2 separate regions of the Homo sapiens genome follow, and region 2 is linked to region 1. The links come from fine-mapping of genetic effects on gene expression. A gene starts in region 1. The other region holds a variant in brackets. All regions are shown on one strand. Distances are between the middles of the regions. Region 1 holds the start of MRGPRX2 (MAS related GPR family member X2). Region 2 holds the start of MRGPRX1 (MAS related GPR family member X1).

The links.
Region 2: its variant is fine-mapped to the expression of MRGPRX2 in subcutaneous fat (FUSION, PIP 0.95).

The regions. Positions count from the first base shown.
Region 1 is chr11:19,052,993-19,068,515 of GRCh38, reverse strand. MRGPRX2 (MAS related GPR family member X2) reads left to right here and starts at 7,799. Exons shown (of 2, transcript NM_054030.4): 1 at 7,799-7,897; 2 at 12,089-14,061. The coding sequence starts at 12,114. The coding sequence ends at 13,106.
Region 2 is chr11:18,936,943-18,952,465 of GRCh38, reverse strand. It overlaps MRGPRX1 (MAS related GPR family member X1), which reads left to right and starts at 13,052. Exons shown (of 2, transcript NM_001393578.1): 1 at 13,052-13,186. RefSeq lists an enhancer at 8,909-9,410. The variant G/TG (reference allele first, on the strand shown) is at 11,823.

The sequences.
Region 1 (15,523 bases):
GATGAATGGATAAAGACAATGTGGTACATATACACAAGGGAGTACTATTCAGCCACAAAAAAGAAAGAATCTTGTCATTTGCAGCAACGTGAATGAGTCTGGAGGACATTATTTTAAGTGGAATAATTCAGGCACAAAAGGACAGATACCACATGTTCTCACACATGTGAAAGCTGAAAAAGTTGATGTCATAGAAATAGAGAGTAGAATAGAGGTTACTAGAAGCTGGGAAGGATGGACAGATGGATAGCCTAATTTTGGCTAACAGATACAAAATTACAGCTAGATAGGAGAAATAAGTTGTAGAGTCCTAGGGCAATGTAGGGTGATTATAATTAATGACAATTTACTGTATATTTTTAAATAGCTAGAAGAGTATATTTTGAATATTCCCAACACAAAGAAATGATAAATGTTTGTGGTGATGGATATGTTAAGGAACCCAATTTGATCATTATACATTGTATACATATATTGAAATATCACATTGTAAGCCATGGAGAGGGGCCTAGGTTGATGACTTCATCATAGTTATGAAAACTCTGGAAGCCACTAAGGATCTAAAAGATGAGAGTCATCCTGGAATCCAAGTTTGGCCTCAGAGAGAGGCCTATTTGAGCTCTCTACTCTCTTTGGTACTTGGAGGAGAGAAACCTCCATAGGCACCAGAGTTCTCTTAGTTTCAGATTCATCACAACTGTAAGGCATCCCATTTTACAGATGGGGAACTGAGATCAAAAGAGTTGCCATTTATGTTGGAGATCCCACAATCAGTAATTATCAAATTAGAAATAAACCACATATTATAAAACAATATCAATTGTGTATTTTGTATGCATATACTAAAGTATTTATGCAGTTGTTTCCATGTGGAAGTATAACCAGTGATTTATGTTTTCATCTATATTCTATATCTTGTACATTCAGCAGCCTGATAAGACTTTTCTGAAGCACAGACGTGATCAATTCATTTCCTAAATGGTTATCCTTTCTTCTCAGAAGGAGATTCTCATTTCGTATTATGGCTACAAGCTTAAAAGGAATGAAAGAGTTTAGAACAACTCATGGTGGAAAGTCTAACAGGAAAATGTCATGAAAATGCAGGACTTCAAAAGACCGAACCTTTAGTGTATTCTCATTCATGAGAAATACAACTGCCAAGAAACTGCCTGATGCACACTTGGCTCTGGGGAAAACAAAAACAAAAACAACAACAACAACATCAAAAGACAAAACAAAACCAAAACAAAAAGCTCTTCTTGAGAATTTATAACCATAAATCAGTATCACATTGTGATCCAAATTCATACAACCTGTGGTCTTCCTAAAATTTCAAATGACAAATGAGGTTTCTGAGGACAACCTGATACATGAAAGCACATTGGGAAGTTCCTCCAGTCAATTAGAAAAAGAAAACAGAAGACCTCTCTAAAAGAACTCAACTACAATTCAGGCCTTAAAGAATTTCCACAAATAAGCTCCCAAGGCAAGTGGCAACTCACAGTCAAAAATCACAAACAAATCACATGAAAGTGCCAGAAGAAATTACAGACAGTAAAGTCACACACACATAGACTTTAGCACTAGAATTATCAGATAATTATAATATTGCCATGCTTAATAGGATTAAAGACATAAAAGAAAGAATTGACAACACAAGTCAGCATCAAGAAATGAAAAAATGACTATGAAAGTAGAAAAACAAAATATCAAATAGATTAACCTTAAATGTAAATGGGCTAAATGTCCCAATTAAAACATATAGACTGCCAAATTGGATAAAGAGTCAAGACCCATTGGTGTGCTGTATTCAGGAGACCCATCTCATGTGTAAAGACACACATAGGCTCAAAATAAAGGGATGGAGGAATAGAATATTTACCAAGCAAATGGAAAGCAAAAAAAAACAAAAACAAAAACAGGGGTTGCAATCCTAGTCTCTGATAAAACAGACTTTAAACCAACAAAGATCAAAAGAGACAAAGAAGGCCATTATGTAATGCTAAAGGGATCAATTCAATAAGAAGAGCTAACTATCCTAAATATATATGCACCCAATACAGGAGCACACAGATTCATAAAGCAAGTCCTTAGAGACCTACAAAGAGACTTAGACTCCCACACAATAATAGTGGGAGAGCTTAACACCCCACTGTCAATAATAGACAGATCAATGAGACAGAAAATTAACAAGGATATTCAGGACTTGAGCTCAGCTCTGGACCAAGCAGACCTAATAGAAATCTACAGAACTCTCCACCCCACGTCAACAGAATATACATTCTTCTCAGCACCACATTGCGCTTATTCTAAAATTGACCACATAATTAAAAGTAAAACACTCTTCAGCAAAAGCAAAAGAATGGAAATAATAACAGTCTCTCAGACCACAGTGCAATCAAATTAGAACTCATGATTAAAAAACTCACTCAAAACCACACAACTACATGGAAACTGAACAACTTGCTTTTTAATGACTACTGGGTAAATAAAGAAATTAAGGCAGAAATAAATGAGTTCTTTGAAACCAATAAGAACAAAGACACAACATACCAGAATCTCTGGGACACAGCTAAAGCAGTGTTTAGAGGGAAATTTATAGCGCTAAATGCCCACAGAAGAAAGCAGGAAAGATCTAAAATTGACACTCTAACATCACAATGAAAAGAACTAGAAAAGCAAGAGCAAACAAATTGAAAAGCTAGCAGAAGGCAAGAAATAACTAAGATCAGAGCAAAACTGAAGGAGATAGGGAAATGAAAAACCCTTCAAAAAATCAATAAATCCAGCAGCTGGTTTTTGGAAAAGATTAACAAAATACATAGACTGCTAGCAAGACTAATAAAGAAGAAAAAAGAGAAGAATCAAATAGACACAATAAAAAATGATAAAAGGGATATCACCACTGAGCCCACAGAAATACAAACTACCATCAGATAATTCTATAAATGCCTCTATGCAAATAAACCAGAAAATCTAGAAGAAATGCATAAATTCCTGGACACATACACTCTCCCAAGACTAAACCAGGAAGAAGTCGAATCCCTGAATAAACCAATAACAACTTCTGAAACTGAGGCAGTAATTAATAGCCTACCAATCAAAAAAAGCCCAGGACCAGACGGATTCACAGCCAAATTCTACCAGAGGTACAAAGAGGAGCTAATACCATTCCTCCTGAAACTATTCCAAATGATAGAAAAGGAGGGACTCCTCCCTAACTCATTTTATGAGGCCAGCCTCATCCTGATACCAAAACCTGGCAGAGACAAAACAAAAAAAGAAAATTTCAGGCCAATATCCCTGATGAACATTGATGCAAAAATCCTCAATAAAGTACTGTCAAACCGAATCCAGCAGCACATCCAAAAGTTTATCCACCATGATCAAGTCGGCTTCATCCCTGGGATGCAAGTCTGGCTCAAAATACGCAAATCAATAAATGTAATCCATCACATAAGCAGAACCAATGACAAAAACCACATGATTATCTCAATAGATGCAGAAAAGGCTGTCGATAAAATTCAACACCCCTTCATGCTAAAAACTCTCAATAAACTGGGTACTGATGGAACATATCTCAAAATAATAAGAGCTATTTTTTATAAACCCACAGCAAATATCACACTGAATTGGCAAAAGCTGGAAGAATTCCCTTTGAAAATTGCCACAAGACAAGGATGCCCTCTCTCACCACTCCTATTCAACATAGTATTGGAAGTTCTGCACAGAGAAATCAGACAAGAAAAAGAAATAAAGGGTATTCAATTAGGAAAAGAGGACGTCAAATTGTCCCTGTTTGCAGATGACATGATTGTATATTTAGAAAACTCCATTGTCTCAGTCCCAAATCTCCTTAAGCTGATAAGCAACTTCAGCAAAGTCTCAGGATACAAAATCAATGTGCAAAAATCACAAGCATTCCCATACACCAATAATAGACAAACAGAGAGCCAAATCATGAGTGAACTCTCATTTACAATTGCTACAAAGAGAATAAAATACCTAGGAATACAATTTACAAAGGATGTGAAGGACCTCTTCAAGGAGAACTACAAACCACTGCTCAAGGAAATAAGAGAGGATACAAACAAATGGAAAAAAATTCCATGCTCATGGATAGGAAGAATCAATGTCGTGAAAATGGCCATACTGCCCAAAGTAATTTATAGTTTTAATGCTATCCACGTCAGGCTACCATTGACTTTCTTCACAGAAGTAGAAAAAACTACTTTAAATTTCATATGGAAACAAAAGAGATCCTGTATAGCCAGGACAATCCTAAGCAAAAAGAATAAAGCTGGAGGCAACACACTACCTGACTTCAAACTATACTACAAGGCTACAGTAACCAAAACAACATGGTGCTGGTACTAAAACATATATATCGACCAGTGGAACAGAACAGAGGCCTCAGAAATGATGCCACACATGTACAACCATCTGATCTTTGACAAACCTGACAAAAACAAGCAATGGGGAAAGGATTCCTTATTTAATAAATGGTGTTGGGAAAACTGGTTAGCCATATGCAGAAAACTGAAACTGGACCCCTTCCTTACACCTTATACAAAAATTAACTCAAAATGGATTAAAGACTTAAACATAAGACCTAAAACCATAAAACCCTAGAAGAAAACCTAGACAGTACCATTCAGGACATAGGCATGGGCAAAGACCTCATGAATAAAACACCAAAAGCAATGGCAACAAAAGCCAAAATTGACAAATGGGATCTAATTAAACTAAAGAGCTTCTGCACAGCAAAAGAAACTATCATCAGAGTGAACAGGCAACCTACAGAATGAGAGAAAATTTTTGCAATCTATCCATCTGACAAAGGGCTAATATCCAGAATTTACAAGAAACTTAAACAAATTTGTAAGAAAAAATAAACAACTCCATCAAAAAGTGGGTGAAGAATATGAACAGAGACTTCTCAAAAGAAGATATTTATATGGCCAACCAACATGAAAAAATGCTCATCATCACTGGTCATTAGAGGAATGCAAATTAAAACCACAATGAGATACCATCTTACACCAGTTAGAATGGAAATCATTAAAAAGTCAGGAAACAACAGATGCTGGAGAGGATGTGGAGAAATAGGAACGCTTTTACACGGTTGGTGGGAGTGCAAATTAGTTCAACCATTGTGGAAGACAGTGTGGCGATTCCTCAAGGATCTAGAACCAGAAATACCATTTGTCTCAGCAATCCCACTACTGGGTATATACCCAAGAGATTATAAATCATTCTACTATAAAGACACATGCACACATACGTTTATTGCAGCACTATTAACAATAGCAAAGACCTGGAACCAACCCAAATGCCCATCAATGATAGACTGGATAAAGAAAATGTGGTACATATACACCATGGAATTCTATGCAGCCGTAAGAAAAGGATGAGTTTATGTTCTTTGCAGGGACGTGGATGAAGCTGGAAACCATCATTCTCAGCAAACTAACACAGGAACAGAAAACCAAACACTGCATGTTCTCACTCATATGTGGGAGTTGAACAATGAGAACACATGGATACAGGGAGGGGAACATCACACACTGGGGCCTCTCAGGGGGTGGGGAGCTAGGAGAGGGATAGCACTAGGAGAAATACCTAATGTAGATGACGGGTTGATGGATGCAGCAAACCACCACGGCATGTGTATACGTAGGTAACAAACCTGCACGTTCTGCCCATGTATCGCATAACTTAAAGTATAATTTTAAAAAAATAAAATAGAACTTCTAGAAATTAGTAATATAAAAATTGGATTTAAACTTCAGTGGATAGATTAAACAGATGATTAGACACAATGGAAAGAATCTAGTTAACTGGAAGATACATCTGAAGAAATTACCCAGAAAGCAGCCTCAGAGACAGAGACGAGACATAAGGAAAAGGTTAAAGAAATAAGGATGATAGAAGAAGAGGGCTAACATATGTTGAATTAGACTTCCAGAAAGAGATAATACTAAAAGTGATAATGAGAGCTAATAATTTTATAGTACTTACTATGTGCTCCTATTGTAAATCATTTATATACATTAAATTATTAATCTTCACAGCAAACCTATAGATTAATAATGTTATCCCCATTTTACTGATGAGGAAACAAACATAACAGAGTTACAAAATCTGGCTAAGGTCCCATAGGAGAAATGCCAAGTAGCCTGGTCTTGTGTTCTTCACCGTTATGTTAATATTTAAAGAGATTATAGCATTAAATTGTTTAAAAATGTTAAATGATGATAATTTTAAAATCTAGGAAACTCCACAAATCCCAAACATGATTTGAAAAAGAGTCACCAGATACAATTTGGTGAGAATGTATCATAGCAGAGAAAAATAAAAGCTCTTAGAGGAAAAAAAGGCAGATCACCACAAGCAAATGGCAACCTGACTGATGGCCGCAACAGTAACCCTGGCAGTCAGAACATGGATCTTCAATGTGCTGGAAGAAAGAAACTATCACCCTACAATGCCATGCCTGGAAAAACCATCTTTAGAAGACGAGGGTGAAACAATGACATTTTCAGATAGATAAAAGGAGGCATTTACCATGCAGAGACTCTCACAGAAGGAACTCCTGAAGAATGTGTTTTGAGAAATGGAAGATATGAGATGTAAAATGGGAGGATGAGCAAAAGCATTGGTGATTATGTGGATAAATCTGAATAAACACTGACTATTTAAAACAATAATAAGTGTTTCATTTGTTGGAGGGAAACAGAATCAAAATCAAATAATAGAGCACAGTAGGTTAGACAGTAACAGAAGTTAAAGCTTTCTAAGGTCCTGCTGCTGCTCATGAGGAAAGCAGATTTCTGGGGACAAATGCATGGTTTACCCACTGCACCAAAGTATAATACAAGAAAATGCTGAGTCTCAGAACTCGCCTCAATCAACACATGTTCCCTGTCTGAGGTCACCCAGCTGCTCTGGAATGCAAAGGGGCATGATCTTGTATGGTGTTCATCATTGTGTCTTCATTGCCTGGAACGGTACCTGACATATCATAGGCAAACAATAAACAGTGTTGAATGAATGAATAAATGAGTGAATAATTTCTTCTGATTGTCTTAAATGCTTCATAATTGTTACTTATAACTCAATTTGGCTGCAGCATAGGCACATGAAAGGAAGTCATAGGAGATAAGGCTGAAAATATTGGTTGGCTCTAGATGATCTAAAAATAATCTAGCTAATAAATATCATGATGTAGAGGGAGAAACGTGACAGATGGTGCATGTGATGTGCTAAGTCCCCTATATTTTATAAGGAGACTCAATATATCTAGTTGTTAACATCGATAAATCAAAAATAGAAATGTTGTTTTATTACGCAAAGCTTTTTTAAAAAAAAGAATGGAAACTGTATGCAGTGGTTGCTTTTGGGGAATGAGACTTCGAGAGACTTTGCATTTCATTTTATACACCTTAGTGTCATTTGAAATAAACCTGATTTTGAAAGGTCAAGTAAGCCAGGGCCTTGAATGCCAAGCAGAAGAGGGCAGACTATTCTTTAGCTATGAAAGCTCACGTCGCTTGATTGGTCTGCTTCCTGGATGCTCATTGTGGGCAATGAAAGACTTCAGGACGGTGATTCCTTGCAGGGAGTGGGGCCGGAGAGGGTAGGGGAGAAACCAAGATAAGTGATTGGAGTCAGGGCAAATGCTGAGAAACATCTCATGTGGTTTCCTGTGTCATACTCTTATTTTCCAGCACCCTCTGTACAGGAAATCACAGGGTTGTTGAGCATCTTGATAAGCTTCACTCAGTCATCAGGTTTCACTCCAGATCCTGCAGGCATCTCCCCATCCTCAGCTGTTTGCCAGTCCCAGGAAAGCACTTCTCAACTCACCAACTCCAGTAGAAAGAAGGGTGTTAAGGTAAGAGTTTGTTCAAGAACCATCTTCTTTCAAAGGCAGTTTTGGTTTTTACCTTAGTCCACATCCTGATGAATTCATTAGGAAAAGAAGACAGGAAGCTCCTTTGAGGAAGCTTTGGATGCTGGCAGCTTAGATGCTGGGAGATCCGAATGGGGTCAAGCAGGTTCGTCCCACTTCTCTTCTATCTACCAATATTCTCCCCTTCTCTTCGACCATTCAAATCTGAAACTATGGAGAGAAAGATTTTGCTGATTTTAATTTAGGGGCAGGCTAGAATGAAGTCATTACTTCCCTAAGCTAAATTGTTATTTAAAACCTCAGGTTGCACTGATTTTCTTGTTATTCAAAAGGTTTTTCCTTCATATCTGTCATTGTCCCAGCAGAAAACACACATCACACACTCTAAAGGGGTAGTTTAGAGGAGTTTAGTGAAGAGACTGTTTACAACGGCGTGAACAGGGATTAAGGAATGATGAAGCCCTCAAAGGCAAGTGATAGTGGAGGGCTGTTACCGTTGCTAGGTCTGAAGTGATAAGGAGAAAGAGAAGTTCTGAGAACTCAGAATGTGCTGTAGCGGTAACTGTAACTGTAACTATAGCTGTGGCTACAGGAAAGGGCCACCAGGCAGGGCTATGTCCTTAGGTAGAAAAACACTGCCACTGCCAACTCACAGCCCTTCAGGGCGCAGGGAGAGAGCCAGGAAATTTTTAAAAAATCATCCCCCAATCTACTGTCAATGTGTCCCTTTGGCTGAAAAAAAAAGTCACCCTCCAATCTCCTGTCAATGTGTACCCTTTGGAGCCTGAGTGAAAGACAGCCCATTGACGAGGCACAGACATGTCTCCTCCCAGGATGCAAAGGCAGGTAGAGAAGGATGGACATGAGATCCTAATAGCAAATAGGAAAGTCCATTTCTTCCCATAGCCTCTTCTCAGTTTGTCTTTCCTGAGACTTTCTCTATTAATGTGATTGAATCAATTTCTCATTCTATCACCTCCCTTTTTTTTAATTGTTTGACCTTCCCATCTAGTGTCACTTCTTTGGACTAGTCTCTCACTATCATCATAAATGCCTTGAGAATGGAATGTGGTTGGGAAAAAAAGGGATTGGGAGTACATAGGTACTCCCAGCTATAAGTACACAGGTATGTGTAATGTAAGTTTATGATTTTGGCTTCTCTAAAAAGAAACCTATTATAGTGATAATCAAAAAGAATGTTTACTAGACTTGGGCTGATAACTCTAAGACATCAAACATCAAGGCTCCTTCCAATTTCTATTTCCCCATCCCTAAAGCGGTACCCTTACCCTCATGGTCCTACATGGCTCCCAAACACATCAGCATTCCAGCCAGAGAGAAGAGAAAAAAAGAAAGAGTACAGGAGTAGCTGGTTATATCACTTTCTCTCACCTCCCCTTGACCATCACATATGGTTACATGGTGCCATTAGCATAAAGGGAAGCTGAGAAATGGGCCTTTTTCTGATCTAAGACTCAGAATTATTATGTGTGAGAAAAGGAGAATGGCTTTTGGGGCAACAAGCAGTCTCTATAGCCCGATTCTCTTTTAGCATCTGTGCTCACCTGGAGATTTTTCTCAACACTGCCTCACAAATAGTGAATGATGTAGACATGGAACAGAAATAAACCTAGGACAGGGCCCCAGGAGACTGGAGCTGGTATTGGACCTGCTTTTCACCATGTGATTCAGGAAACTCTTTTGTACACGTTAAGCCTGTCTTTCTTTGTTAAATGAGCGTATTACAATAGATGGCCTCCAAGGGATATGTGTTGGAGGCTGGGGATATAATAGTGAACAACCACAACAAAAATGTTGAGCTTAATGAGGGAAGTAAAAGAAAAAACAGACATACACTTAAAAATACAGGTGCAGGGCCGGGCACGGTGGCTCACGCCTGTAATCCTGGCACTTTGGGAGGCCGAGGCGGGCAGATCACAAGGTCAGAAGTTCGAGACCATCCTGGCTAACACAGTGAAACCCCGTCTCTACTGAAAAAAAAAATACAAAAAATTAGCCAGTCGTGGTGGTGGGCACCTGTAGTCCCAGCTACTCGGGAGGCTGAGGCAGGAGAATGGCGTGAGCCCAGGAGGCGGAGCTTGCAGTGAGCCGAGATCGAGCCACTGCACTCCAGCCTGGGTGACAGAGCGAGACTCCATCTCAAAAAAAAAAAAAAATACAGGTGCAAACTGTGTTCAGTGCCACGAATAAAAAGGCCAACCTGCCCTGAGGGAGGACAACAGAAGTGGTTTTCTTCCATATCCTCACAAGGCCAACCAGGGCTACAGGAACTAAGACAGCATGTGATGGATGCATTCAGTCCTTGATGCCAATTCTGCACCCCCATGGAGGACACATTCACTTTCCCCTTGGAGGCCTCCAACCCATGAGAGTTTTCTGCAGTGTGGAGTGATTGACGGCTGTTTTTCTGAAGCAAGAAAGAGCTCTTGCATTCAGTTGCTTATTCTCAGTTGGCTTCTATTCATATCTCTTCTCCTTATTTGATTAATCTCTCTTCCTTACTGTTTCTTAAAGTTGCTTAATCTAGGCTTAAAAAACTGCAATTTCGACATTCCATTTTGGATTTGATATGAGCATTACTTGTTGCTTTTCTCCTTTCTTCATGTGTAGTTGGTATTGAACCCTTGCAATGGGGCTGCAAGGCTGGTTAAGAACAAGCCCTCTGACACAGACCTGTGGGTTCAAATGCAGGCTCTACCACTTGTTTGTGAGACCTGAAGCATATTACTCAATACATTTGTGCTTTAATCTCCTTCTCTGTAAAATGGGACTAATAATAGTACTGACCTCACCAGGCTCTGAAGAAGATTTAAAGAGGCTATACCTGAAGAGCATTCAGCCAGCTGCTATTATTCACCCCATTATGAGTAAGGGCTCCTTCCCAAGTGTAATTTGCATAAGCATCTGCCTTTTCCCCTCAAAGCCCTGCACAGTGTAGACATGGTTCTTTTTTCTAATTTCCCACTCCTTTCCCCAAATAATCCTGTTCACAAATGCTTTAATTTGCAAAGAAAGCTCAAAATCATCTGGGGGAAGTAATGGGTCCACCTTAGATGTATTCATACCACAACACCCTCTAGTTACCTCTAGACACTAGACACTCTCAATTGCTGCCTCTCTCTCCTTTTCCCAAATTGCCCCCTTTTCCTCCAAGATGCAGAGAAATTCAGATAAACCCTGAATCCTCTCCATAAACTGGAAGTTTAAACTCTTTTGGGTGCTGAGCAAAAGCCATATACTAGCCCTTCCTGGATTGAAGATATGACAGTGGCCATTATTCACTATCTGTGTAGGCAGAAGCAATCCCTTCAAATACACCAGAGCTTTCCCAGAAGGAAACATGAAGAATGATGTTTTCTTCATTTCTTTACATGTGTGTTTTTTAGTGACTAATTTCATTTTAAAATGTTGGTGTTCCACTTAGCCCAAATTTTCAACTACTCTTGGCTCCCCATGCATGCATGCATGCATTCATTCATTCATTTATATGTGGTACAAACTTCTTGACCCTCCACTATGCCCTCACATTGAGCTAGGCACTGAGGACACAGAAATGGATAAGAGAAAAACTCTTTCTGTTTTCATAAAGCTGACCCACTGAGCAATTTCTAGTCTGACAGGCCTGGCTGTCCTCAGACCTGTCCTAGCAAGAAGTCACCTCTCCGTTATGACCCTAAATCACAATCTCCATTCTGACTGTTGATGGACTCCTCTCAGTCATTAAGGGTGGCCATGGGTCATGGCCTGGGTCATTTCTTCTGGCCCCTGAGAGGAAATCTGTATGCCAGGATAAAAAGAATCCTGAACTCAGAGTACTGTCTCTTGCTGCCCCACATATTCTGCCTAGACTTTTCTCTTCCTGCCTCCAGGAGACATGACACAGTGACAGTGAGTGGGGGTGTTTGGGCCTTAGAATATTCCCATACCAGCAGAGGATCTACCTTGTAATAGAAAGAGCCCAGGATTTAGAGTCAGCAAGAAATGAGTTTGAATCCAGGTGCTAGGACTCCCTGGCCCTTAATAAATGACTTAATCTCTTCAAGCCTCTGATTTCCTCTCCTGTAAAACAGGGGCGGTAATTACCACATAACAGGCTGGTCATGAAAATCAGTGAACATGCAGCAGGTGCTCAAGTCTTGTTTTTGTTTCCAGGGGCACCAGTGGAGGTTTTCTGAGCATGGATCCAACCACCCCGGCCTGGGGAACAGAAAGTACAACAGTGAATGGAAATGACCAAGCCCTTCTTCTGCTTTGTGGCAAGGAGACCCTGATCCCGGTCTTCCTGATCCTTTTCATTGCCCTGGTCGGGCTGGTAGGAAACGGGTTTGTGCTCTGGCTCCTGGGCTTCCGCATGCGCAGGAACGCCTTCTCTGTCTACGTCCTCAGCCTGGCCGGGGCCGACTTCCTCTTCCTCTGCTTCCAGATTATAAATTGCCTGGTGTACCTCAGTAACTTCTTCTGTTCCATCTCCATCAATTTCCCTAGCTTCTTCACCACTGTGATGACCTGTGCCTACCTTGCAGGCCTGAGCATGCTGAGCACCGTCAGCACCGAGCGCTGCCTGTCCGTCCTGTGGCCCATCTGGTATCGCTGCCGCCGCCCCAGACACCTGTCAGCGGTCGTGTGTGTCCTGCTCTGGGCCCTGTCCCTACTGCTGAGCATCTTGGAAGGGAAGTTCTGTGGCTTCTTATTTAGTGATGGTGACTCTGGTTGGTGTCAGACATTTGATTTCATCACTGCAGCGTGGCTGATTTTTTTATTCATGGTTCTCTGTGGGTCCAGTCTGGCCCTGCTGGTCAGGATCCTCTGTGGCTCCAGGGGTCTGCCACTGACCAGGCTGTACCTGACCATCCTGCTCACAGTGCTGGTGTTCCTCCTCTGCGGCCTGCCCTTTGGCATTCAGTGGTTCCTAATATTATGGATCTGGAAGGATTCTGATGTCTTATTTTGTCATATTCATCCAGTTTCAGTTGTCCTGTCATCTCTTAACAGCAGTGCCAACCCCATCATTTACTTCTTCGTGGGCTCTTTTAGGAAGCAGTGGCGGCTGCAGCAGCCGATCCTCAAGCTGGCTCTCCAGAGGGCTCTGCAGGACATTGCTGAGGTGGATCACAGTGAAGGATGCTTCCGTCAGGGCACCCCGGAGATGTCGAGAAGCAGTCTGGTGTAGAGATGGACAGCCTCTACTTCCATCAGATATATGTGGCTTTGAGAGGCAACTTTGCCCCTGTCTGTCTGATTTGCTGAACTTTCTCAGTCCTGATTTTAAAACAGTTAAGAGAGTCCTTGTGAGGATTAAGTGAGACAGTGCCTATGAAACAAACACTAAGTGCAGTGTCTCTGGAACTGCCTTACTCACAGGCTTCCACCACAGCCCTATGAGAGCTTTGCCAACTCTGCGGTCCATGACTGTTCCCACTTTTAATGAATCCTACCTTTCGCAGAAGGCTGAAAGCAGGGCAGAAAAGATCTACATTTCTTTGGACACTGCACTTGATAGGGACTCAAAGAATGTTATATTTTTAATTAATTTCTTTTTCTCTTCCGTACAATTTCTGTCTCAACAAAATTAGAAGAATTAAATTTAAAACTAGCTCCAAAAGAGCAGTCGTCTTTCATTTTGGCAGACCTTAGAATATCCCCCTAGCTTAATAAATCTTTGTTGAATGGCTTAATGAATGAATAAACTGGTTAATGTTTAAGTTAAACCTCTGAAAAGTCTCCATTTACCAGATTTGAGTCACTAAATTTATTGCTTTCACTACTTTTGAATTTTGCAAACATGAAATTAAGTTTTATAATTAGATAAATCAATGTCAACACATATTTAAAGTTTGAGGTACACTGTCTTCCTGTGGTTTCCTTTCACATGCCATCCCTTAAAATCCCAGCTACACGCCTTCCCATTCCTTCCCCTTTGCCTTTGTTCTAATCTTCCCTCTCTGGGGGCTCTCTAATTCGTCCTGGAAGTTTCCAGTGGTCTTATAGACTCCATGTTCTTGGAGGACAGGCTGTATGTCAGATTTACCTTTTATTCCGAAGAACTCGGAGCATTTATTTTGTTAATTAAATTGCACATATTTTTAAAAGTTACGTGTTCCACAGAATAAAATACTAATTGTAAATGCTGCATCTTTTAATAATTTTTTATTATTTTTAATTAAGGTATAATTAAGAGAATGATATGCACAGATCATAAATGTACAGCTTAATGAGTTTTGTTAAATGAATACACCTATGTGACTCAAACTTCATTCAAGACAAAATATTTTCATCATCTCTAAAAGTTCCCCTGTGCTTCCTCATTCTTCCTGCCCCCAGAGGCAACCATTGTTTCTATTTCAATCAACAAATATTAGCTTTGCCTGACCTTTAACTGTATCTTTTTAGAATCATAATATGTGTATTTTTTGTTTCTAGCTCTTGCACTCAACATAATATTTTGAAGATTTACCTATGTTATTGCATCACATGTATCAGTAGTTTGTTCCTTTCATAAAGCTGAGTACTATTTAATTGTGTGAGTGTACTATGGTGTAACTATTTTCATACTGACAGATATATATGTGATGTGTTATGAATTTTTTGGCTATTATAAATAAAGCTGCTGTGAACGTTCTTATTCAAGTCTTTTTGTAGATATATGTTTACATTTCTTTGTATAGACAACCTGGAATGAAATTGCAGGATCAAGGAAAGATGTATACTTAATTCTATAAGAAAGTACCAAGCTATTTTCTAAAATGTTTGTACCATTTCACATTCCCACCAGCAATGTATGAGAGTTCCAGTTGCTCCACATGTTCCCAACAAACATGGTATTGCCAGTCTTTGAATTTTAGTCATTGTAATGAGTGTTAAATAGTATCTCATTGTGTTTTAATTTGCATTTCCATAATGACTTATTAAATTGAGCATCTTTTAAGTGCTTTTTAGCTACTCTTTTTTTTGGCAGTGTCTGCTTAAGTTTTGCCTATTTTTATTAAGTATTTATCTTTTTCATTATTAATTTGTATACATTTTTTCATATGCTGAACGATTCTTTTGGTAGTTATGTGTATTATACTTATCTGGTTGGTGGTTTGCCTATTCATTTTTACATATTTATTTATTTTTAACAATTACATATATTTATGGGGCACGATGTGATGTTTTGATCAATGTATACCTTGTAGAAAGACTAAATCAAGCTGATTAAAATATCCATCACCTTACCAACTTATTTGTGTGTGTAATGTGAATGTTAAAAATCTATTCTTTAAACCAACACCACATGTTCTCACTTATAAGTGGGAACTGAACAATGAGAACACATGAATACAGGGAGGGGAAGAACACACACTGGGGCCTGTCGGGGGGTGGGGTGAGGGGAGGGAGAGCATTAGGAAAACTAAGTAATGCATGCTCGGCTTAATGCCTAGATGATGGGTTGAGAGGTACAGCAAACCACCATGGCACATATTTACCTGTGTAACAAACCTGCACATCCTGCACATGTACCCCATAACTTAAAATAAAAATAAATTTTAACATCTATTTTTTTTTAGATATAGTCTCACTCTGTCACCCCAGCTGGAATGCAGTGGC
Region 2 (15,523 bases), 120 kb after region 1:
TGTGACACATGCTATCCAAGCATTGTGTTTGTGGCTCAAGGGTGTTCAGAGGAGAGGGTATCTAAAAATTCCAAGTTATCTTGCTGCCATCCTGAAGAGGAATGCCACACCCAAGCACCCAGCTGAAGCAGGACAATATAATTCCAACAAATAAGAGAATGTGCACCAGGTGACTGCTCATGCAAGACAACAATCTCAGCAACAGTTCTATAATTGATGACATTATAAGATTAACAGGCTAAATGTTACAACAGCGCTTGGTCTATAGTCTAACATCGCACAAATGCACAATTCCTGAAAGCATTTTCTAGAGACCCTGCAGGTGCTTAGGTCACAGGCGTTGCAGGACTACCTACTACCATTACCCTGTGTTTCAGCAGAAGAAGCCCTTGCCTCCAGGCAAACCCAACTAATATCTAGAAATCCTAAGATATATAGGGAAGCAGGATATGCAAGTGCCAGAATGGGAAGAACACTGGACCTGGTTTCAGGAATTTGGGATTCTCAAGCTGACTGCATGGCCAACATGGGTCAGATGCTCCTTCGCGGCAAATCAAGCAGAAGTGAGGTTATGGGATTGCCCCAGCCTGAAACTGTGTCATTTGTGCATTTGTGCTTATATATCTCTTTTCAGAATATGTGGGTAAGGTGTGATTTTACCGTAACCATGGACTGAAGATAACTACTGTTATGATCCTGACAGCCTGAGAAATTTACGTCTCTACACAGTGACTGTAATCACAGTAAGTGAATGTTCTTCTCAACTATGGGGCAGTGACCTAGAGTCTGAAAAGTCTGCTGAAATGCTTGCTCTGTATGACTGTCTGGTATCAGTTGGGCACCATTATTGTCAATGTATCAATGCTGGATATAGATATAGATGGCGTGTGTTTTCTATTATCTAGCAGTGACAGCAGAGTATAGAAAAAGAAATCTCAATGCTCATGCCCATCATATTGGTCCAATTGTTCTGGAGCTTTGCAGGATGCAAACACAAGGAAGGAGAGCAGAGACAGGGCAGACCTCATTCCTGAGTGTGTAGGTAGAAGTGAGTGGATCATGGAAGGCTTCGTGTAATAGGTAGAATTTTAACTGATGACTACAATTGACTCAGCATTATTATTATAATTATACCCTCTGTAAATTTTGCCAGTCACGTAGATTTTTGTATTGGGCAAAGAGAGGTAAATAGGATCTAACAGATGGAAATGGAAGAAGAGATAATTTACAGTGGCACTGTTAATAAAAGCATAGAGTTTTTTAGGGAATGGTGAATAATTCATATATGAGTTTTACTCCTTGTGCCACCTCATGTATTTGGTCATGGCGGCAAGATTCCTCTTAAATAGAATCACAAGGCTGGAGTGCTCTAAATAATGAGCATTATCTTTTGTGGCCTTGAAGTGATAGGGCTTGCTGTTAGTTTTGTGACATTCGTAGGAGTGAGCTCTATAATAATGTAAGCCCAGAGAGGACCAGGCATGTCAGGCCAACAGGACAAACCAAAATCAATGCCCTGCTCTCCTTACCCTCCTCACAGTGATATATCCAGACCTCCAGGGCCAGAAGGCATGGATTAAAAAACAAAAAAAATGTGTGGGGGTTAGGGGAGAAGAGAGAAGCAATGGAATGCAGGCCCTTCTCTGGAGCAGCATTTTTACCTGCAAAAGGCCCACATTGGGAGTAAGGGAGACAGTTAATCTGTGAATTAAATCAACATTGTAATTGTCACATAAAAATTCAGACCTAAATTCTGCATAGCTTGATATGGGTAATCAAAAATTCCTATTCAAATTCTGTGTCACCTAGCACCTCTTTGTAACATAATATCTATAGTGTCTTGACATTTGGTTTAATACTGCTGTTTTAACATCTTGGTACACATGTGAGAGAATAATACATATCAACCGCAGACGTTCTGAAATTGAAGAAAATTGTCATTTCCATTCCAGGTATGCAGGCACCCTTGCCTTATTATCAAAGACATGTACGATTATTGCTGAGAGTACAGATGCATGAATCAGCCTTAAGTTGTATCTGTAACAGTGTATGTATTCATTTTAAGAGTTATTGGAAACAAATATGATAACAATTTAATATGTGCTTAATTTTGTGGAAGATGTCTGTTAATGCTTACTACATTATCTTCTAGCGTATGTGCCTGGTTTACAAACTTCCTTCCAGCATAACCCATGTCCTCATTTTTGGTGACTTCAATATCCATGGAGATAAGTCCATACAATGAACTGGCCTTTCAGTTGGTTTTTAAGTTTTTACTGTGAATTAATTGTAGACTACGAAGAAGTTGTGAAAGCAGTACAGAGAGTTCCTGTATGCCCATCACCCGACCTACAGCAATACTTACAAGTTAAATAAATGTATTGTCAAAACCAGGAAATCGACATTGATCCCATCTAATTATCTACACTGTAAATCTTATCAGATTTCACCAAATAACTACAGCACAATCTTACCAAATTTTACCAGTGTTTGCATGCACTCATTTTTGGAGTGAGATATTCCTCTATGTTTCATTCCATAATATTTTGTCACAGGTGTAGATTCATAAACACAATCACATTGAATATAGAAGTGTTTCTTTACCACAGAAGAATTCCCTTGGGCTTCTCCTACTGTCACACACACAGTGTGCTTCTTCCCAAATCCCTCTAATCACTGATCTATTCTTCATGTCTGTAATTTCATCATTTTGAAAGGGTTACATAAATGGAATCATACAGTATCTAATCTTTTGACTTTGGCTTTTTTTATTCAGCATAATGTCCTCAAAATCCACCCAACATTTTCCAGCTATCAATAGCTTATTGCTGACTTTCTTATACTACCGAGTAGTGTTCAATTGTATAGATGTACTATGCTTTGTTTCACTATTCACAAGTGGAAAGACATTGCTGTTTTTTCTAACGTGGCATTTATAAATAAAGCAGCTATACACGTATGTGTACAGACTTTTTTATTTTATTTTAAGTTCTGGGATACATGTGCATAATCTGCAGGTTTCTAACATAGGTATACATCTGCCATGGTGGTTTGCTGCACCTATCAACCCATCATCTAGGTTTTAAGCCCTGCATGCATTAGGTATATGTCATAATGATCTCCCTCCCCTTGATCCCCACCACCCAACAGGATGTGTTCTGTAATGTTCCCCTCCCTGTGTTCAACAGTTCTCATTTTTCAACTCCCAATTATGAGTGAGAACGTGCGTTGTTTGGTTTTCTGTTCCTGTGTTAATTTGCTGAAAATAATGGCCTCCAGCTTCATCCGTGTCCCTGCTAAGGACGTGAACTCATTCTTTCTTATGACTGCATAGTATTCCATAGTGTATATGTGCTACATTTTCTTCATCCAGTCTATCATTGATGGGCATTTGGGTTGGTTCCAAGTCTTTGCTATTGTAAATAGTGCTGCAATAAACATACATGTGCATGTGTCTTTATACTAGAATGATTTATAATCCTGTGGATATATATCCAGTAATGGGATTGCTGGGCCAAATGGTATTTCTGGTTCTACCTCCTTGAGAAATCTTCTCACTGTCTTGCACAATGGTTGAACTAATTTACACTCCTACCTACAGTATAAAAGCTTTCCTGTTTCTCCACAGCCTCATCAGCATCTGTTCTTTCCTAACTTTTTTTTTTTTTTTTTTTGGCGAATTTTTTGTACTTTTAGTAGAGACAGGGTTTCACCATGTTAGCCAGGATGGTCTCGATCTCCTGACCTCATGATCCGCCCACCTCGGCCTCCCAAAGTGCTAGGATTATAGGCATGAGCCACCACGCCCGGCCTCCTAACTTTTTAATAATTACCATTCTGACTGTTGTGAGATGGTATCTCATTGTGGTTTTTATTTGCATTTCTCTAATGACCAGTGATGATGAGCTTTTTTTCATATGTTTGTTGGCCACATAAGTGTCTTCTTTTAAGAGGTGTCTGTTCACATTCTTTGCCCACTTTTTGATGGGCAAAGAGGAACTTTGTCCTCTTTTAAATTTATTTAACTCCCTTTAAGATACTGGATATTAGGCCTTTGTGAGATGGTGAGATTGCAAAAATTTTCTACCATTCTGTAGGTTGCCTGTTCCCTCTGATGATAGTTTCTTTTGCTGTGCAGAAGCTCTTTAGGTTACTTAGATCACATTTGTCAATTTTGGCTTTTTTTGCAATTGCTCTTGGTGTTTTCATCATGAAGTCATTGCCTATGCCTATGTCCTGAATGCGATTGCCTGGATTTTCTTCTGGGGTTTTTTTATGGTTTTGGGTTTTACATTTAAGTGTTTAATCCATCTTGAGTTTATTTTTGTACACAATGTAAGGAAGGGGTCCAATTTTTGTTTTCTGCCCATGGCTAGCCAGTTATCCCAGCACCACTTATTAAATAGGGAATCCTTTCACCATTGCTTATTTTTGTCAGGTTTGTTGAAGATCAGATGGTTGTAGATGTGTGGTGTTATTTCTGAGGTCTCTGTTCTGTTTCACTGGTCTATGTATCTGTTTTGGTAGCAGTACCATGCTGTTTTGGTTACTGTATCCTTGTAGTATAGTTTGAAGTCAAGTAGCGTGATGCCTCCAGCTTTGTTCCTTTTCCTTAGGATTGTCTTGGTAATATGGGCTCTTTTTGGTTTTAAATGAAATGTAAAGTAGTTTTTTCTAATTCTGTGTAGAAAGTCAAGGGTAGCTTGATGGGAATAGCACTGAAACTATAAATTACTTTGGGTAGTATGGCCATTTTCATGATACTGATTCTTCATATCCATGAGAATGGAATTTTTTTCCATTTGTTTGTATCCTCTTTTATTTCCTTGAATAGTGGTTTGCAATTTTCCTTGAAGAGGTCATTCACATCCCTTGTATGCTGTATTCCTAGGTCTTTTATTCTCTTTGCAACAATTGTGAGAGGGAGTTCACTCATGATTTGGCGCTTTGCTTTTCTATTATCGGTGTATAGGAATGCTTGTAATTTTTGTACATTGATTTTGTATCCTGAGATTTTGCTGAATTTCCTTATCAGCTCAAGGAGTTCTGGGGCTGAGATGATGGAGTTTTCCAAATATACAATCATGTCATCTGCAAAGAGAGACAGTTTGACTTCCTGTCTTCCTATTTGAATACCCTTCATTTATCTCTCTTACCTGATTTCCCTGGCCAGAACTTTCAATACTGTGTTGAATAGGAGTGGTGAGAGGGCATTTCTGTCTTGTTTCCAGTTTTTAAAGGAAGTGTTTCCAGTTTTTGCCCAGTCAGTATCATATTGGCTATGGGTTTATCATAATTAACTCTCATTATTTTGAGATATGTTCCATCAATACCTAGTTGATTGAGAGTTTTTAACATGAAGGGATGTTGAATTTTATCAAAGGCTTTTTCTGCATCTATTGAGATAATCACATGGTGTTTGTTATTGGTTCTGTTTATGTGATGGATTACACTTATTGATTTGCATATGTTGAACCAGCCTTGCATCCCAGGGATGAAGCTGACTTGATCGTGGTGGATAAGCTTTTTGATGTGCTGCTGGATTCGGTTTGCCATTATTTTATTGAGGATTTTTACATCGATGTTCCTCAGGGTTATTGGCCTGAAATTTTCTTTTTTTGTTGTGTCTCTGCCAGGTTTTGGTATCAGGATGAAGCTGGCCTCATGAGTTAGGGAGGAGATCTTTTTTTTCTGTTGTTTGGAATCCTTTCAGAAGGAGTGGTAACAGCTCCTCTTTGTGCCTCTGGTAGAATTTGTCTGTCAATCCATCTGGTCTTGAACTTTTTTTCATTGATAGGCTATTAATTATTGCTTCAATTTCAGAACTTGTTATTGGTCTATTCAGGGATTTGGCTTCTTCCTGGTTTCATCGGAGGAGGGTGTATGTGTCCAGGAATTTATCCATTTCTTCTAGATTTTCTAGTTGATTTGCTTAGAGATGTTTATAGTATTCTCTGATGGTAGTTGTATTTCTGTGGGATCAGTGGTGATATCCCCTCTATCATTGTTTATTGTGTCTATTTGATTCTTCTCTCTTCTTCTTTACTAGTCTAGCTAGTGGTCTATCTATCTTGTTAATGTTTTGAAAAAGCCAGCTTCTGGATTCATTGATTTTTTTGAAGGGTTTTTCGTGTTTCTAGCTCCTTCAGTTCTGCTCTGATCTTAGTTATTTCTTGTCTTCTGCTAGCTTTTGAAGTTGCTTGCTCTTGCTTCTCTAGTTTTTTAAATTGTGATGTTAGGGTGTTGATTTCAAGCCTTTTCAGCTTTCTGATATGGGCATTTGGTATATAAATTTCTCTCTTAACACTGCTTTAGCTGTGTCCCATAGATTCTGGTACATTGTCTCTTTGTTCTCATTGATTTCAAAGAACGTCTTTATTTCTGCCTTAATTTTGTTATTTACCCAGTAGTCATTCAGGAGCAGGTTGTTCAATTTCCATGTAGTTGTGTGGTTTTGAGTGAGTTTCTTAATCCTGAGTTCTAATTTGATTGTACTGCAGTCAGAGAGATTGTTTGTTATTGTTTCCAATCTTTTGTATTTGCTGAGGAGTATTTTACTTCCAGTTATGTGGTCGATTTTTAGAATAAGTGCTATGTGGCACTGAGAAGACTGTATATTCTGTTGATTTGGGGTGGAGAGTTCTGTCGATGTCTATTAGGTTCACTTGGTCCAGAGCTGAGTTCAAGTCCTGAATATCCTTGTTTTCTGTCTCTTTGATCTAATATTGACAGTGGGGTGTAAAAGTCTCCTGCTATTATTATGTGGGAGTCTAAGTCTCTTTGTAGGTCTGTAAGAACTTGTTTTATGAATGTGGGTGCTCCTGTATTGGGTGCATATATATTTAGGATAGTTAGTTCTTCTTGTTGCCTTGATCCCTTTACCATTATGTAATGCCCTCCTTTGTCTTTTTTGATCTTCATTAGTTAAAGACTGTTTTATCAGAGACTAAGATTGCAACCGCTGCTTTTTTTTGCTTTCCATTTGCTTGGCAAATATTTTTCCATCCCTTTATCTTGAGCCTATGTGTGTCTTTGCACGTGAGATGAGTCTCCTGAATATAGCACACCTATGGGTCTTCACTGTTTATCCAATTTGCCTGATGCTAGCTGGGTATTTTGCACATTAGTTAATGCAGTTTCTTCATAGTGTCATTGGTCTTTATATTTTAGCGTGTTTTTGCAGTGGCTGGTACCAGTTTTTCCTTTCTATATTTAGTGCTTCCTTCAGGAGCTCCTGTAAGGCAGGCCTGGTGATGACAAAATCCCTTACAATTTGCCTGTCGGGAAAGGATTTTTTTTCTTCTTTCCTTATGGAGCTTAGATTGGCTGGATATGAAACTCACGGTTGAAAATTCTTTTCTTTAAGAATGTTGAATATTGGCCCCCACTCTCTTCTGCCTTGTGGAGTTCCTGCAAAGAGATCCGCTGTTATTCTGATGGGCTTCCCTTTTAGGTAGCCTGACCTTTCTCTCTTGCTGCCTTTAACATTTTTTCCTTTATTTCAACTTTGGAGAATCTAACAATTATGTGTCTTGGGGTTGCTCTTCCCGAGGAATATCTTAGTGTTGTTCTCTCTGTTTCCTAAATTTGAATGCTGGCCTGTCTTGCTAGGATGGTGAAGTTCTCCTGGATAATATCCTGAAGTGTATTTTTGAACTTGGTTCCATTCTCCCCATCACCTTCAGTTGCACCAATCAATTGTAGGTTTGTCTATTCACATAGTCCCATATTTCTTGGAGGTTTTGTTCATTCATTTTCATTCTTTTTTCTCTAATCTAGTCTTCATGCCTTATTTCAGTAAGTTGATCTCCAACCTCTGATATTCTTTCTTCTGCTTGATTGATTCAGCTATTGATACTTGTGTATACTTCACAAAGTCCTTGTGCTGTGTTTTTCAGCTCCATCAGGTCACTTATGTTCCTCTCTGTACTGGTTATTCTAGTTAGCAGTTCCTGTAACCTTTTATCAAGGTTCTTAGCTTTCTTGCATTGGGTTAGAATATGCTCCTTTAGCTCAGAGGAGTTTGTTATTACCCACCTTTTGAAGCCTACTTCTGTCAATTCATCAGTCTCATTCTCCATGCAGTTTTGCGCTGTTGCTTGAGAGGAGTTGCGATAGTTTGGAGGAGAAGAGGCTTTCTGGTTTTTGGAATTTTCAGTATTTTTGCACTGCTTTCCTCATATTTCTGGATTTATCTACATTTGATCTTTTAGGCCGATAACCTTTGGGTGGGGTTTTTGTGTGGGGGTCTTTTTAGTTGATGTTGATGTTATTGCTTTCTGTTTGCTAGTTGGTCTTCTAACAGTCAGGCCTCTCTTCTGCAGGTCGGCTGCAGTTTGCTGGAGGTCCAATCCAGACCCTGTTCACCTGGGTATCACCAGTGGAGGCTGCAGAACAGCAAAAGATGGCTGCCTGATCCTTTCTCTGGAAGCTTCATTCCAGAGGGGCACTGGCCTGATGCCAACTAGAGCTCTCCTGTATGAGGTGTCTGTCCACCCCTGTTAGGAGGTCTCTCCCAGTTGGGAGGCACGGGGGTCAGGGACCCACTTGAGGAGGCAATCTGTCCCTTAGCAGAGCTGGTGCACTGTGCTGGGAGAACCCCCCTTGTCAGGATCAGCTGCTATCTTCAGAGGCAGCAGGCAGGAAAGATTAAATCTGCTGCGGTTGCGCCCACAGCCTCCCCTTCCCCCACGTGCTCCATCCCAGGGAGATAGGAATTTTATCTGTAAACCCCTGACTGCGCCTGCTGTCTGTCCTTCAGAGATGTCCTGCCCAGTGAGGAGGAATCTAGAGAAGTAGTCTGGCCATAGCTGCTTAGCCGCGCTGTGGTGAATTCCGCCCAGTCCAAACCTCCCAGCCTTCTTAGCACTGTCAGGGGAAAACCGCCTACTAAAGCCTCAGGAATGGCGGATACCCCTCTCTCCACAAAGCTCAATCGCCCCAGGTCGACTTCAGACTGCTGCGCCGGCAGTGAGAATTTCAAGCCAGTGGTTCTTTGCTTGCTGGGCTCTGTGGGAGTGGGACCCATTGAGGCAGGGGACCACTTGTCTCCCTGGCTTCAGCCCCCTTTCCAGGGGAGTGAACGGATCTGTCTCACTGGAGTTCCAGGCACCACTGGGGTATGAAAAAAACTCCTGCATCTAGGTCGGTCTCTGCCCAAACAGCTGCCCAATATTGTGCTTGAAACCCAGAGCCCTGGTGGTGTAGGCACACGAGGGAATCTCCTGATCTGCGGATCGCAAAAACCATTTCAAAAGCGTAGTACTGGGCTGGTAGCAGGGTTCCTCACAGCTTCCCTTGATTGGGGGACAGGTGTCCCCTGGCTCCTTGTACTTCGCAGATGAAGCGATGCCCCACCCTGCTTCTCCTTGCTCTCCGTGGGTTGTACACACTGCCTAACCAGTCTCAATGAGATGAACTGGGTACCTGAGTTGGAAATGCAGAAATCACCAGTCTTCTGCGTTGGTCCCGCTGGGAGCTGCAGACCAGAACTGTTTTTATTTGGCCATCTTGGCCCCCCTCCTGTACAGATTTTTAAGTGAACACAGTTTCCCAGTTTCTAGGATACATTTTCCAGGTTCTAGGATACGCTGGATTGCTGGATTATATGAAAATGCAAGAAGATTTCCCAGAGTAGCTCTACTATTTTACTTTCTCATTGGCAGTGTATGAGACCTCCAATTCCTTCAAATCTCAGCCAATATTTGAAACTATCAGTATTTTATATTTTAGCCATATTGAGAGGGTAGAGTGGTATCTCGTGACTTTTATTTGTTGTCCTAAACATTAGTGATGTTGAGCATCTTTTTATGTGTTTATTTGTCATGCATATATGTCCTTGCTGAAGTATCAGTTCGTCTTTTACCCTGCTTGAATCCAGCTCTCCACTAACTCCATGCCTGTTCCCATAGAACAGAGTGTGGCTGCAGCACAACACACAACCATGCCCAGCGGTTTCACTGTACATTTATAACCTTGAACCTGAAAGGTCCATTTATATCTCCTGAACACTCACGTAACATTTCCATAATTGCCTCTCACTCTCCAAAGGAAAATCTTCACGACATTTTCTCTCTCCTGAAACCGCCTACTCTTTATTTATTTTTTTAATCACTGTCAGGTGATGCTCTTCTGAGAATTACTCAATCTCCCCAGAGGGAACCTACCTCCCCATGTGCCTCTGAGCACACCTCTCTGCATTTTCTCTCATGCCAGGAAATGGGCTCTGCAAATTCCTGTTTGAAACCACCCTTTCCATTTGTGCAGTTTCCCCTTTTGCCTCCCCAGAAACATTTTATAGCATTATTGCCTCTCCCTTCTACATCTTCAATGTTTCCTTCTCTAATGGATCCTTCCATTGCAACTGAAACACCCCATCCTATTTGTGGCATAAAACACCATCTAAGCAACCATTCGTCTCTATCCACAGCCTGATTTATCTTCTTTATTTTAGAAAAAAATATCTTCCAAAGAGATTTCTGTACTCATTATCTTCATTTCCTCACCCTTCCTTGTATCTTCTCATATCTCTAACTCCCTCTCTTAGCTAGATCATTAAATTTATGTTTTTTGTTTGAAAATTTATTTGTGACATGGTAATAAAGTCAAAGCTTTCAAAAATAATCTTTAAATACACTCACTGAAAACTGTCATTCCCATTTTAGGTCCTCAGGCATCCTTGCCTTGTTAACAAAGACATATCCTATTATACTTACTAATAAGTGTATATTAATTCACAAATATTTAATAATAAAACAATATATATATTTTTCATACAATATATACATTGGTCTGCATTCTTTTTAAAAAATCTAACAAATTCTGCAGGGCCTTTTATATCAGGTTTGTTGCTCTTTCTGGGTAGCTACAGAGTATTCTATTGCATAGATAGACAGTAATTTATACAGTATTGATGGCCATTTTGGCTGTTACCAGTTTTTGACTGTAAATAACACTGCATTTATTAACTCAGAACATAGATCTTTTGAACATGCACAAATATATCTCTAAGATAAATTCTTAGATGAGGAATTACAGAGAGAAAAGGATGGTGCTTTATACATGCTTCCATATGTTGAAAACAGCCTTCACTGGAAGTTGTATCCATCTGCATCCCCAGCAGAAATGAGTGAGGGTACCTGATCCCACTCCATCCCCACACTGTATGCTATAAAACTTAATGGTTTTTTAGATTTTGGTAAATAAAATATAACTCTGTAATTTCAATTGGCATGTCTTTCATTATGAGTTGAATTTCTCCTCTTTCCATATGTTTAGGAGCCATTTTTATTTTTTAGAAATTGTGAATCATGACTTAAAGTTATTTTCTTATTACCTTTTTCAATTTTGAATTATTAACATCATTTAGAAAAATTTGTATCAATAGAGAAAATTTATACTTTGGCTATAACATACATTACCAAACATCTCCCAGTTTATTTATTTAATTTTATTAATTTACTAATTTATTTCTTGAGATGGAGTCTCGTTCTGTCACCCAAGCTGGAGTGCAGAGGCACAGTCTTGGCTCACTGCAAATTTCGTCTACTAGGTTCAATCCATTCTCTTGCTCAGCCTCTCGAGCAGCTGGGATTACAAGCGTGTCCCACCACAACGAATTAATTTTTGTATTTTTAGTAGAGACCAGGTTTCACCATGGTGGCCAGGCTGGTCTCATACTCCTGACCTCAGGTGATCTGCCTGCCTTGGCCTCCCAAAGTGCTGGGATTACAGGGGTGAACCACCATGCCTGGCCACAGTTTATTTATATCTTGATTATGATGGTTAATGTTATGCTAAAAAAAATAACTTTTTTTTTTTTT[G/TG]AGACAAAGTCTGGCTCTATCAGCCAGGGGAGTGCAATGGTGTGATGTCAGCTCACTGTAACCTCCACGGCCTGGGCTCAAGCCATCCTGCCACCACAACGTCCCAGGTAGCTGGGACTACAGACATGCACCACCACACCAGGCTAGTTTTTGTATTTTTTGTAGAAACGGGTTTTCACTATGTTGCCCAGAATGGTCTCAAACTTGTAAGCTCAAGCAATCCACCCACGCAGCCTCCCAAAGTGCTGGGATTACAGGAATGGGCCATCACAGCTAGCCTTTTTGTCTTTATAAATATTTTCTTTAATATCTTCTGAATTGTATCCTATAATTGAAAGTCTTTTTCCACTTTGATTTAAAAACTATTTGGCTATGGCTTCTCCAGGTAATTGTATTTTCATTATAAAATTTTAAGTAGTGTATTTGCATGTATCCTCAAATCATATGTAAAGTATGTTTCCACCTTTACTTATTTCACACAGAAACTCAGTTGTCCCAATCCCATTCATTCAATTGTGCCTGTTTTACACACTACTTTGATATACAACCTTTATCATAATAGGCATACATTGAAGATATTAGAAGTCCACTTCCACTACTGCAATAAAGCAAATATTACAATAAAGTGAATCACATGAATTTTTGGTGTCCCGGTACATGTAAAATTTATGCTTACACTATACTGTACTCTATTGAGTCTCAATGGCATTATGTCTAAAGCAATGTGCATGCATTACTTAAAAAAATACTTTTTCACTAAGAAATGGTAACCAGCATCAGAAACTTTATCAAGCCAAACGTTTTGCTGCTGGAGGGTCTTGCTTGATATTGATGGCTGCTGAAGTGGCTGCTGAAGGTAAGACAGGCTGTGCCAATATCTTAAAACAAGACAACAGTGAAGTCTGCCACATCAACTGACTCATCCTTTTATGAAAGATTTTAATGTAGCATGCAATGCTATTTGCATAGCATTTTATACACAATAGAACTTCTTTTAAAATGGGAGTCCATTCTCTCAAACTGCGCCACTGTTTTTATCAAGCAAGTTGAACAAGATGGAATGTGATGGGAGAGGCTTATCTCTATTGGATATGGGACAGAGGCCAAGAATCATCTCAGGTAGGGTTTGTGTCTCCAATACCTCTGGCCACTGATTTGTCCATAGTCCTCATACAGGAAATAACAAGTCTGTCCAGCATCTTCATAAGCCTGGATTGCTCACCAGCTTTGACTCCAGCTCCTGTATGCATCTCCTGAATTAAGCAACACAGAAGGGTTCTCTGAAGTCACTGAATCCCAGAAAGGCCCTCCACCTTTAGCACAAGGGACGTCTTCACCACTGGACAAAGGAGAAAAAGATAAGGGTAAGTACCAAGATTTGTCTTCTTCCATAGTCAGTCATGGTTTTTGCTATAAGATCGTTTCTGTTTCCACCTAGGTGCTACAGGCAGGGGATCATGAGCTTGTTTCAGGAAAAGACAGGGGACATGAAGTTTCCTTCTGGAAACTGAGTGCTGCCAACCCAGACTGTGTGAGTTTCAACTGGAGTCCCCCCATTTGATTTATCTGTCCATATCACCTCCCTTATTCCAATCACTGAACCTGTCCTCTTAGAGAAAATGCTGCCTCTCACATTCATTTAAGGAGCTAGAGGACATGCAAGCATTGCTTCACAGAGTTGAACTGCTGTAGAAGCAGGTTTTGTTGTTTTACTTACTTTTCTAAATTATTATTCCTTGCCTGTCTGGAAAGGTTCAAGGAAGAAATAGGTGGTCCAAACTGAAATGACTGAGGAGTGTTTCGTGAGGGAAGTATTTACAAAGATGTGCAAGGTTAAGGGAAAGAGACAATGCATGGGTCAGCACCCTAAGCAACAATACATAGGGGAGGACTAAGTCCTCCCCTAGGCTGAAAGGGAGAAGGAAGGAGCAGTTACCATTGTCGCCATAGCCATAGCTGTAGCCATAGGGGTGGTAGAGCTCCAGCAGGCAGGTGGAGAAGCCTTGCACGGCCAACACACAGCCACACAGGCTGATATGCTTTGGATCTGTGTCCCCAACCAAATCTCAGGTTGATTGTAATTCCCAGTGTTGGAGGGAGGGCCTGGTGGGAGGTGATTAAATAGTGGGGATGGTTTCTCATAAATGGCTTAACACTATCCCCCTTCGGTATTGCCTTAGTGATAGTGAGTTCTCATGCAATCTAGTTGTTTAAAAGTGTGTAGCACCTCTTCCCTGTCTCTCTTGCTCCTGCTCTCACCATGTGAGATGACTTGCTCCCCCTTTGCCTTTCACCATGATTGGAAGCTTCCTGAGGCCTTCTTAGAAGCAGAAGCTGCTATGCTTCTTGCATAGCCCGCAGAGCCATAAGCCAATTAAACCTGTTTTCTTCATAAATTTCCCAGTCTCAGGTATTTCTTTGTAGCAATTCAAGAATGAACTAATACACAGGCAGAGAGCCAGGAGGTGGAAATCCCAAGTGGCTCTCCTGCTGTCTTCCAGTCTCATCCAGGTGTCTCCCAGTGTCTCAATTCCACCAGAAACTGGAATTAAAAAGAATCCCACTGATGTGGTGCATAGAAGCCACTCTCTTGGGGTGTCAAACAGGATAGAGAAGAATGGAAAGCAAATCATCATAGCAAATGAGACTATCCCTCTCTCCTTCTTATATCCTCCTAATTCCTGGGACAGTCTCTGTCTACAGGTGATTGATTCCTGTCTCATTTCAGCTCTTTCAGACTACTTTAATGTTCGGCATGTCTTTCTCTACTGTCACTTCTATGCAGAAATGTTTGCATTCATCCAAAATGCATAGAAAATAAAATGTAATTTTAAAAAGAGAACATATTTCTTTTGTTTAGAATACAAGTTTGACCCCTCTCATAAAGACACAAAGTAGAAATATCTTAAATAAGAAAGTACAGTGGTGCCTCTGGGTCACTAGGTCCTGAATCTGCAGATTCAACAACCCACAGGTGGAAACTGTTCCAAAAATAAGGGTATGGCGGAGGTGTGCATGTACTGAACAGGTACAAACTTGTTTTTCCTTGTCATTACTTCTGAAATAACACAGTAAAACAAGAACTTACATGGCATTTGCATTTTGTCAGTTATTCTAAGTAACTTAGAAGTGATTTAATGTATCTGGGAGAAAGTGCATAGGTTTTGTACAACTATCACATCATTTTATATAAGGAAATTGAGCATCTGCAGATTTTGGTGTGTGCTGGGGTAGCAGCACACACATCTGCCATATGCGAAAGCCCCTGTGAATATCCAGAAATGACACTCTTTGAGATCAGTGCGGGAAGCTCCAAGGCATCGTACATCAGAATTCCAAAAACTGCTACTCTCGAGTCCCTAGAGAGTTGCCCTCATACCTGTGATCCTATATGGTTCCCAGCCACACCAGCATTTCAGCATGATGGAAAAAAAATAAGGAAAGGAGATGCGTTGCTCCTGCTATTGGTCCTGTGAGCCAGGACTTGCTTACATCACTTTTGTGCATCTTTCACTGAACAGCACCTGGTCATAAAATGGCACCCAGCATCAAGGAAAACTGGAATGTAGGTCCTTGTGCCGCTTTTAAACTCTCAGAATTTTTATGTGACCAAACAGGAAAATGAACACTGGGGCAACCTAGCAGTCTCTTCTGCCTCTGTCTCTGATTCTGTACTCACATCAAGATTTTTCAGGAACTCC